Homo sapiens: one gene and its partner. The protein of the gene in region 2 interacts with the protein of the main gene of each other region in a pairwise test. Each region holds a gene or a part of one and is shown on either strand. Other genes may lie near its edges. The genes, in order: UROC1 and ALX1.

Region 1 (6,405 bases), on a different chromosome or scaffold from region 2:
AACCATGGCTACTCCAAAGGGACGCCACTCCCAATTCTGTCTCCACCGTGGCTACTCGAAAGGGATGCCACTCCCAATTCCATCCCCACCGTGGCTACTCCAAGGGGACGCCCCACCCCCCGCAACTCTGCAGCAGTTTCTCTTTCCTGCGCATTGATCCCTGTTTCCAGGCTGTGCGCTCACCCTCACATTCCTGGACCGAACTTCCCATGTTTCCACTTGTCTGTTGGCTCCACTCCAGGACAACCAGTGACAGCTGTGTGTTGTTTCTAGCCTCCTCTGTGCCACTGTCTCCTGCAGCCCCTCTTCCTGATTGCCCATTTGCCGTCTGTCTTTGTGCCATCTGCCCAGCGCTCACGTTTAAACAGGGCACTACTTGGCTGGCTGCAGCCCTGCATGCTCAGGTGGACGTTTGGACCGCAGGCTGCAGGACAGAGCCATCTGGCTGGGCCACAGAGTGCAAGAGATCAAGACAAGAGCCAGGCTCTTGTTCTTGGGTTGGTTGGACCTCAGAAAAGACTTTTCTGATCTCCTTTCCCTATTGGGAGGACCCAGTCAGAGGGGTGAGGCCTCCCTGTTGGTGCTGCGGCCTCACATGTGAGAGGGTCAGTTCCAGTGGCCACCGAGGGCCCACTCGGGCAGCCTCTAGGCAGCAGGTGGGTGGGCATCTGGGAGCCCACCTCAGGTGAGCAGGCTTCCAGCCGGTGTTTCCAACTTTACCTCTGCTCTTGCCCTCCTTCGGAGCCCCTTGGTGCTGACCACCAGCTCCTGAGGTTCCCTGGGTCCTGGGGCGCCGATGGATTCTGCCGGTCCCTCCCATGGCCACACTGCGCTGGAGCTTTCTGATGCCTGCCTCCAGCTTTCAGAATCCCATCACCCATTCTCCTGTCCCTTTCTCCTCATCCTTGTGGGTTAAATAATTCCTCTGCAGTTTTGTTGGTGAGATGCAGGAGGGGCAGGGGTAAATGGCTGTGTTCTATCCACCATCTATTATATATCTGGATACTGCCACTTTTTCACACTAAACAATGTCTTACAGTGCATCTGAAACTTGAATGTGCACAGAAATCCTCTGGGGATATCATTAAAATGCAGATTATTGTATAGGCGTGCACCACCAGGTCTGAGTCAGGCCTAGTGGTGCACGCCTATAGTCCCATCTACTCAGAAGGCTAAGGCAGGAGGATTGCTTGAGCCCAGGAGGTTTGAGTAAAGCCTGGGAAACATAGTGAGACACCCTCTCTACCAAAAAAAAATAAATAAATAAATGGGGAACAAAGAAAAAAAAGCAGGTGTGGGGTGGAATGGAGATTCAGCATTTCTAGCAAGCTCCTGGTGACGCTGATCCTCTGCCCCGAGGACCTCTCTGAGTAGCCAGGGCTTCCAGGGCCCTGTCTGTGCACACAGCCCTCCCCCACCCACCCACACGCCTTCTGCCCATGTGCAGGGGATGATGCCCCGATGGACAGCCCTGGAGTGCCATGATTGACAGCAGTTCTCAGGCCATCTGCCTGCACAGGGTAGCCTTGCTGTGCCTTTGTTTCTCAATGAGAAAATAAGCATAATAATAACAACTGCCTTGTAGGCTAGGGGTGAAGAGGAAATGAGCTGATGATAGCGAACGCTTGTAGAGTGTTAACATGTGCAAGGCCTTCTACACTATTCATGTATGTTAACTCATCGAATCATGCACTTTAATACATCTGGCATTTATGTTTTTCTACTTTCATGTTTTTCTCAAAGGTATAGTTAGTTGTTCCAACACCATTTGTGAGTTACCTCAAATTCACCATTAATAGCAATGTGTTAGCGTTCCCATTTTCCTGGGATCTGCAAGTTCAGAGTTCCTCTGTGGTCAGTTTGCCAAGGTCACCTGAAGCTGAGCGGCCTTGGTCTCTGACCCTCTGGGATGCAGGCTTCTAAAACAAAATCTGTAGTTCTAATCTCCAAGAGGCCTCTCTAGCTGCAGGACACTGGGAGTGCTCAGGCCTGGGCATGGCTGTTGCTCCTCTGACAGATGAATGGTAATGACCTTAGATCGACTTGGAGCACCTCCCACCTGGAGGCTGGTGGGAGGTGTGAGGGCAACCCACTGCAGGCCATGGACTGCCCAGGTGCAGGGATGCAAGTGCAGGGTGGTAGGCAGCACAGCTGGCTCACTTGCAGGAGGGGTGCAGCTTCTGGGACCAGGAATGGGGAGTGTAGGTGGCTGCAAGGGGCACAGGGCACCTCTCACTGGCTTCCTGGTGAGAACTGGCTGAGGTTGTGGTCAGTAGGATTCAGGCTGGGCAGAGAAGCAGGGAAAGCTGGATGGGCCTGAAGGATTTGAGACAAGGGAAACTAGATGCACATTTTGCATGCTGGAAGAAAAAGGAACAGATATACTGCAAGTGAGGAATAAGAGGCAGGAGGGACACATTTGCAACAACACAACGACAGGCGTTTACAAAATTAAGGGTGCTTCTTGTGTAACTGAAAGCTGAGAAGACTGAGCAGGAGCCAAGGCTGGATGCTTCAAGGGCAGCAGCTCGTAGGTGAATGGCTGAGGATGGGGAAGGTCATCCCAGGCTGATGGGGAACAGCTCCAGTGCACATGCATGGAAGCAGCAGCAGAGCTTCAACACAGTTAATGAAGTTCAACTCATCTACTAGGAAACAAATGAAACCAAGAACATATCAAAAACTGTTAGAAGGAGAGAAATGCATTAATTAGAAAACCAGAAATATTGAAAATAAAGGAACTTAGCCTTCAGATCAAATAATCAGAAGGACCCCCCATACACTTGAGGCAAGCAGAAAGAAGAGATAAGGAAGATAAAGATCATAAGGATAAAATCAGGTGGGGGCACAGTGGCCCATGCCTATAATCCCAGCATTTTGGGAGGTCGAAGCAAGAGGATTGCTTCAGGCCAGGATTTCATGGTCATCCTGGGCAGCATAGTGAGATACCATCTCTAAAAAAATATTTTTTTTAAAGATAAAACCAGAAAGAGTGATGACTGAATTGAGTAATACAAGACACACCAAGGGGAGTGTGCTTTATAGGGCAGCACTCTGAGAATGCAGGGAGGGGGCAGCTATAGCCCACTGGGGGTACCCAGGAGGTTTCCATCAAGGGATGACCTCCAATGGGTGGTGGAAGTGGGCACGAGGCCGACAGGCCCAGCACAGGGGGCACAAGTGGGCAGAGAGGTGGCAGGTAACCACGCTGCTCCCAGCTGTGCTTGCCTGCACGACTCCTGCATCCACCAGGTTGCAGAGGCTGGCGGTGTGGCGGCCCCAACCCTGACGCCGTCTCAAGCCAATGCTTCCAAAACATGGGCTTCTGCCTGCTCTGTGCAGTGTTGGGCCCCAGGAATGAACTGGAAACTCCTCTGCCTCCTGCAGGGGTGAGGTGATCAACGGGGGATTCGGCCTCGTGCTGGACGGTACCCCGGAGGCCGAGGGGAGAGCCAGGCTGATGCTCAGCTGGGATGTCTCCAATGGTGTAAGTCAGCCCAGTCCTTGCCACCTCCTGAAGGCAGGGCCTTCAGCTGGGTGATCCCCATCCACGTTTGCTGTCATACAGCATCTCCTGGGTGTGGGGATGGGGGCCGGATTCCTCTCATGACCACAGCACAGCAGCCAGGAAGGGGGAATCAGCTCAAATGGAGGTCAGGTCAGGTGATGATGGGGAGACAGGTGGGACCCAGAGAATGAGGGGAGGCTTGGAGCAAAGGCGGGAGTTCAGACAGCTTGGGTGACTGAAAGCCCCTGGGCTGGGCCCGGAGCGTGAGCATGAGGACAGAGAGGGTGCTGGCAGGAGACTCACCCCATCTCACCGGGAGCTGCAGGGCTTCTGGCGGAGCTGGGGATGGAGGTCTTCATCCCAGAGCAAGAGGTTTTGTTCTAGGAGATGCCCCGGCTGTGGCATGGAAAAGTGGGTTGGGGGCAGGTGTGGTGACTGTGTGGAAGGCGGAGGCGGGGGTGGCAAGAATGGCAGAGGGGAATGGGGGAGGAGGCGTGGCATCATCCAGGGGAGACCAGGTGGAGGGAAGAAAGAGGACTGCAGGGACATTGTGAAGGTAGAGCTCAGGCTGAGGTGGATTCTAGAAGGGAGGGAGGTGCTGCGGAGGACTCAGGAGGCAAGGCCATTCTTGGAGCTGGGGGAGCAGGACTGAGTGTGATGACCGCCAGTTTCAGATCCCAGAGGAGGGCCAGAGACAGGGAGCCTAAGCTGGGGGTGGAAATGGGGCAGACACAAAAGGGCAGCTGTCCCCACGGACAGCCTCAGAGGTCCCGAAGCAGAGAGGCCCCAAGTGTGGGAGCCAAGACTCACGTGGGGAGCCCGGTTATGTTGACATGGACTGCTATCCCCCTCCTTGCCCTAGGTGGCCCGGCGCTGCTGGTCAGGGAACCAGAAGGCCTATGAGATCATCTGCCAGACCATGCAGGAGAACAGCACCTTGGTGGTGACACTGCCTCACAAGGTGGAGGACGAGCGGGTGCTCCAGCAGGCCCTGCAGCTCTGAGGGAGCCAGGAGTCGCGGCCCCTGCCTCCCTTCCTCCCTGGCGATCCTCACCTGCCCAGCCATGGCACACACCCTTCCTGCACACCCGCACTACCTGCACTTCTCGCACATCCTCACGTGGCCCTTATGGTGCCCTGTGCAGGGTGCCACCACAGCCTCATTTTACAGACAGCCCCCTGAGGCCCAGAGACATGCAGCTCTCTGTCCACAACCATGCCACTTGCATGGGAGCCCTGAAGGCTGTCAAAGTCCATTTAGGGCCAAGTCCCAAGCCTGCCCGGGGGCCCTGCGGTGAACACTGGTCAAGCTCTCTCCGGCTGGGATGATCACACCCTCTGCTTCCTGGCCACCTGCCAGCCTCCATGCAACTCTGTCTGTCTGCTGCCCATCTGCTGTCTGTGCAAGCAACTTCTGGACCCTGGCACCCTGGGCTGCTGGCCTGGAGGAGTTCGGGAAGGAGGATAGACCAGGAAATAAAGGGTCAACAGAGCTGTGTGCTGCACTGTGGGCTGGTGGGACGGGCAGGCCGGGTCTGCCCTAAGGATAAATGATCACTTACTGGGGAAGAAATGAGAGAGCAGGGGCACCCCCCTAGGCCAGCACAGCCTGAGGGGTACAGCAAAGGGGACCCTTTGCTGGCCCCTGAGGCTGGAGTCTGGCACCCCTTCCCCAATCCCATAGCCCGGTAATGACTGGGTCCAGAGCCTCGTGAGAGGTCACCGGGATGGGGGAAGTGGCCTCTGTCAGGGCCAGGGCTCATGAATCTCATTCTCTTAGCTGGGCGTGCAACAGACCAACAGATAACTCATCCTAAACAGAGAAATGAGAAAGAGTCTGTGGGTGGGCCTCTGAGGGCCACAGAAAACCAGACACCCCACATGTCGGTGGATTGGAGAGGGGCAGGCCACTGCCCTCTCCAGGACCAAGCCGGGTTCTTGGTCCCCACCCTCCCTGCACTCCGCATCTCCTCCCCAGCAGCCATTCTCCCCTTTCCCTTGTGAACAAAAGCCTAGTTTTGTGTGGGCAGCAATATAGGGTAAATAAAACCACCTGATTCTCCAGCCTTCCTTGCTGTTAGGAGGGACTGTTGGCCTAGTCCTGGCCCACGAGATGAGGGTGGGGTCTGTGGGGCAGGGCTTCTTGAGAGCCGTCGTTTTTCTAATAAAATGGACAGATCCAGCGGGGTTGCTTTTTGCCTTCGCCCCTTCGTCCTGCCAGAACCAAGATGTGGGGCCTGGAAACACAGCAACCAGGTTGGTCAGCTAGGGCGGCTGCCACATAATGTCTGGCACTGGGGCCCAAACAACAGAAATGAAACACATTTGCAGGCTGGAAGCCCAAGACCAGGTGCCAGCTGGCGTAATTCCTGGTGAGGCCAACTTCTCACTGCATCCTTCCATGGCAGAGACAGAGAGGGGAGAGTGTTACAGAGAGGGGCAGAGACAGAAAGACAGAGACAGAGAGGGGAGAGTGTTACAGAGAGGGGCAGAGACAGAAGGACAGAGACAGAGAGGGGAGAGTGTTACAGAGAGGGGCAGAGACAGACAGAGAGTCACAGAGAGAGACAGAGAGAGAGGAAGAGACAGAGAAAGAAAGAGATACAGAGAGGAAGAGACAGAGAAAGAGAGAGATAGAGAGAGTAAGAGACAGAGAAAGAGAGAAAGACAGAGATAGTGAGAGAGACAGGACAGAGTGTGTAGGGACGAATCGTCTGTCCCCACATCTCCATGAAAGCACCCTGCTGCATGGATCTGTGCACACATCTTAAGAGCGGGCCACAGGGCCCTGGCATCACCCTTTCCCCATCCAGCACCTTCCCTCTTGAAGGACAGGGAGGGCTCTGGTGGCTTCCAGCTGCACACAGACCCCAGACCCCCTCTGGGCTCCATACCAA
Region 2 (5,362 bases):
TCTTCTCTTCTTTTCCAACAGAAATTTTAGAAAGCTTTCTGACATTTTAATTCTCTATGCAAAAACCACAGTAGCAAAAAATGCTTAAGGCATAATATGTTGAGAAACAAACACACATGCATGTAAGCATGCACATACCCACAAAATACATATAAATTCCAACTCGCTGATGCTTTAACAGAAAATGTTACTTTCAGTGTAGTATTAATTAGTGGTTTATGTGCACAGTTTAATCAACACGATCTTAGTTTAAAAGCAACAGCAAGGTTTATAAATTTTTTCTTGTTTGTGATGATTAAGTAATTGAGTCTATGCTGGCTTCTTCACTGGAAAAATGACATTTATAAAGTCCGCTCCCATGACTATATTTTCAATCACACCAGAATACTTCAGTTATCACCTTTAGCCATGTGGCTTCAGGAAACCATGCCCAAATATCTCATGCGAATGTTGGTTATTTTAAAAGATCCCTTGTTTAACAGAGTGGAAATTCACTAAAACATCAAAGGGTAAAAACAAAAACAAAAATGAGGCTTGAAAATAAATTCTCAGCAACAGGGTTTTTGCCCACTGCTTTTTGGAGAGAGAGAGAGAGCAGTTAACTCCCCAGAACACCCTGATTCAATATTTACCTGACGACTTTGGCATCTTGACATTTTCCCCAGTGCATTTCCTTCTTTATCAGGTATTATTTTACATGAGATTTCTTGTTATACAGAAGTAACATAAATCAATCTATAACAGAAGAATTTGTTTAACACATTTATTCTTTAATAAGTTGCGTGATCATATTTCATTGACTTGTACAATAGAAAAAGAAAACCTTACTACTAAAACAGGGTTTGTGGAGACTGGCACATGGTAAACCTATTTAGTCTTTTCAGAGGTTCATTCTTAGATTTTAATGTTAAATAACAACTATTCATTTAAGCTGGTCTCACTGAATATCTTGACCTTTAGCAATTCCACACACAGCAGCTTATTGTGGTATCCTTTAAATATGAGAAATAAGAATGTTTAACTTTGCTATTAAAAGAAAAATAAAAGAGTACTGTATGTTACATGGCCCATGAAATATTGGCGGTGTGCTCCTTGGCTTTCATTCGAAGAACTGCGATACTGGAAGACCTCCTTTCAAACTCTGGCTTTGTTTCAAATGCATGTCCATTGGTTGCCCCAGTAAGAAGAGAGTCAGTGAAAAAATTGTTGAGGGGCACGTGGCTGAACTGGTTCTGGTGGTTTGAAAACCCCGTGTAACTGGAATCTGTCCGAGGCGAGTGAGAATAAGGTGTCATACAGGAGGAAGTGTCACGTGGTAACATGCATGAAGTAACCACAGAACCACCACTTGCATTTCCTGCCCACAAATTGTTCTGAATCTGGAATATATAAAACAACAAATATTACATTTACATGTTCTCACTTTTGTTCTCTTACTTTTGTTAAGTTGTATTTACTAAATTTGGTTAACTATTCATTGTTTGCTCCTATTGGGTGGTCTGTAATTACATACAACAATGACTAAAAAATAATTACTTGAGAGATCCTTCTAGTTTGTTATACTGAAATAGAGCAACAAATCTCACATTCTTGGCCACATAACGTACTCTCAAACATGTCTATCTCCTATAAAAAAGTATTATTTTCATAGTCATGATTTTAAAAATGAATCTGGAAGATTGAGTCATGACCAATTCATACGATTAGAAAAGTAGTTTAAAATCTGGTTTTAAGTTTAAAGATAGTTTTTGTCTTTCTAAACAAAATGACACAAATGCATTTTTAAAAAAAATTCTAACTGGGACTCCTGGTGTGGCAGTTTTCGTTGGAAACCATTGCTGACAATAGACTGTTCTGCAAAGATATTTTTGATCAAACTTATTCTGGAACATGTTTGCCCTCCTATTGCTTTTTCGTATCCTATAGTCTTGAAGAAACAGCTCTGAGAATCTGGGAAATTACAAAATATGTAAATATACATATTTTAAAAATTTATTCTGTGATTTATGTATGATATAATGAATTTGAAACAGACATGTGACATGTAAAACAAAGTTAGAATTTTAAAACATGGGCCTTTACCAAATAATGGAATCATAGCTGAGAAAGATGTGCAACTATTTAGCAAAAACATCAGATGAGTATAATGCAGTTACTCTTGTGTTATATAGTACTCCTATAGAGTAGAAACTGCTTTATCATTCACACCCGAGATATTCACACTTCGTATTATTAAATCTCCACAGGAAACAATTCAATGCAATATTAACAAGTACAAATTTATCTAAAGTTACTAGCATGTAAAAGAAACATGATATAGACCTTATGTAACATGAATTTTAAGTAGGACATATCTCAATCTTAATATACAAGCTATTTAAACAAACAAAAGCAGGAACCCCATACGTTACTGGGAAGCTCAGAGAAAATCATGACAAATGGCAGGAGCTGGGGAAGGTAAAAAAAGAAAATGTTGCATGGGATAGTAATACTATGATGCAGCCCTTTGAAGATGAAATAAAACTGAATGCTTTTAGCAACATTATTATAATACATTTGGACTAGAACATAGCAGCAATACACATGTTAATCACATCAGGTTTCCTTATCTTTTAAAATCATGATGTAAGAGTAGAATCATCAATGAGTAGGACACATATGTCTTCCTATATTTGTTTCTACATAAAGATTCCAGGCACCTACATATAAGGTCTGGTGTAGTCTTACAATACCCATGCTTGAGTTGTACTTTCTATGGCAACTAATTTTCAAATAAGAGCAAAAAATATGTTAATAAATCTTCTAGATCACACTGGTAAAAAGGTACTCTGTCACTCAAGAAAGGACTGATTAACCAGGTTCAAAACGTAAGAGAAAAACCTTAATAAGTAATTTCAACCTTTAGGTGGGGTTTCAGTGATTGGCAAGGTGCTTACATATCTGGGTTGTCTTAAAAAATAATTCTTTATATAAATATATGTATAAGCTGCTTTAAAGTTGTTAAATATATACATATGTAGAAAGAGACAAAGAGAGAAATCTACATATCCATATCTAAACATATATATTTTATATATATATATGATTTGCATATTTTGTTAATCCTTAAATTGTCTCAGGCTATGTTCTAATTCTGGCTCATTCTACTATATGTGTTCCACTTTAGGCAAAACATAATGACTGGTATCAGTGATTGCTGAGTTATGTATATCAAACCAACAAGAGGGCTGCTAATGTCATTACTCTGTCAAACTACCTCTTCTAACTTCATCTGCGTGATTTTCCTCTGACATTCAATCACACACATTGTGCTACTCGGCAAAAACCATAGTCACATGTCTGATAAAAGAGCTTTCAGAAATGAAAGTGAACTTTGCTTGCTTACTTAAAAAAAAAAAAAGGAAGACAACATAATGAAAGAGAAGGATTATTTATATTTTGTTTGTTAAAGAATTGCTTGATTTATACAGTTTCTTGAATTTTTTATTAAAATCATTCATTCATATTCCAAATGCACAGAAATATGTTCACCAACTAGATGAAAAAGCTAAAATCAGAAAGGTAAAGGCAAGGGAGGTAACCTATAGATATAAATTAAGAAAATATTGCCTCCCTAACATAATTAACATAAATCTACCTATAAATTGAAAAATATTCTGTAGAGTACATAAAAAAGCAAATTTTATTTTGATCAAAACTTCTTATCTGGACATGATCAAGCACGTTATATGCATTACTTTTGATGAAATAATTTCTAACATATAGACATGTTTTTCTGGGCAGAACAGACTGGTAAAGTAAATATGATAACAATATTTTAGTTGGGCTTGTGAAGATACCCTAAATATTTTGAAGATTGTCATTTATTCCCATAGGTAGAGATATCCTCACACATTTTTACTGATCTATCTTGTTTTCAAAATATCTATTTCTTCCCCCTCCCCAGCACCACTGCTGATCTTTCCTTTTTTAAATTTCCAGCAAATCTTTATTTGACTTTAGAAACATTGTTGGTTTCCACATTGTAAATTTATTTAGATGCAACTCATAAAAGATAATATCCTCGGTATATTGTGATTTTACTTCTCTGAAGCCTGCCCTCTGGGTGTTTAAACATTTGATGATGATGCTCAAGACCATGTTCATTATAGCTAATGGTTACCAATTAATTACCATGCGTGAGGCATTATGTTAAATATATTATGAACACTTTTAATTGTTTCAGTACACTAAACAGCGTGTTCTTTTGCTATCCCCCTTTTGAGGATGGTAACACTATAGAACAGAGCTGAAGAAGATCACCCAAGATTGCATAGTTCCAATGGTGGAGGTCAAATCTCAACCTAGGAAACCTTAGAAATGCTGTAATAATGACTAGTTTTATGAGTTGAAATTATTTATTTACTCATTATCCCTACTTTGTGTAGGTTCATAGTCTCTACTCTCTGAAAGAAAAACCCACAATTATTTCTCACAACTGTTTTGTCATCCTCAGGTCTAATGTGGTACAAGGTAAGTCCTTAATACAAAGTTATTAAGTGCTTGAAAAATATGGACTGATCCATCTTGCAGATATAATCAAAATTTTATGGATGATTTATGTTAATATATCAAAATTTTTGTTTCATAATATGAACTCCCAAATCACCATACTCAATAATCTTAACAGTGATCATGAAAATTACATTCCTAGACCTTGCTAACTGCATTTACCTGGGAAGTTCTTTATTTTTATTATTAAACACTGATTCTCCACAACAGATACATATCCTTGGAGACTCTGATTCATTTAGTATGGCTCAGGGGCTCTGTATTAAAATAATAGTAATAAAATACACACATGGAATTCTGAAAATCAATTGAAATTAGGAAACACTACTGGAGTCCAACTTCCTTCCAAATGAAAAATTCTTTGTACACCAATTTTGTTTACCTCTTGTGATAAGAAGCTCACCTGTTTAAAAAAAAATTCCATTTCTTTTCTATAAAAGTAAGCTGTTATATTCCTCTACCTCTACCTATGGCTTCCATTTATGTGCCCTATAATGACGTAGAATAAGATCATCTTTCTTACATGTAAAAATCTTAAAATGTAATCGGGCATGATGATACAACCCCCAAATCCTTTTTCTCCAGGTAAACATCTCCAGTGCTTTTAACCATTCCTCATATGACTTGGTTTCTAGACACTGTATCATTCAGATCATGTTATTCTGGATATGTCTGAGCTTATCAATACCGTTTACCCTTACCAATACATAGCATTTACACCAGAATATCATACACTGCATATCATCTGATTGCTGTAGGAAAAAGCTGGCAGATAAAATCTTTGTTCTAGGCCATCTAGATCTGATTAAAC

What was found.
Region 1: the proteins of ALX1 (region 2) and UROC1 interact in binary tests that used the Homo sapiens proteins (3 or more experiments, as listed by UniProt).

Annotation. Positions count from the first base shown.
Region 1 is NC_000003.12:126,480,451-126,486,855, reverse strand, and holds the end of UROC1 (urocanate hydratase), read left to right. Parts: intron 1-3,387; coding exon 3,388-3,487; intron 3,488-4,370; coding exon 4,371-4,511; 3' UTR 4,512-5,690; downstream 5,691-6,405.
Region 2 is NC_000012.12:85,297,172-85,302,533, reverse strand, and holds the end of ALX1 (ALX homeobox protein 1), read right to left. Parts: intron 1,380-5,362; coding exon 1,059-1,379; 3' UTR 750-1,058; downstream 1-749. UniProt on the Homo sapiens protein: Sequence-specific DNA-binding transcription factor that binds palindromic sequences within promoters and may activate or repress the transcription of a subset of genes.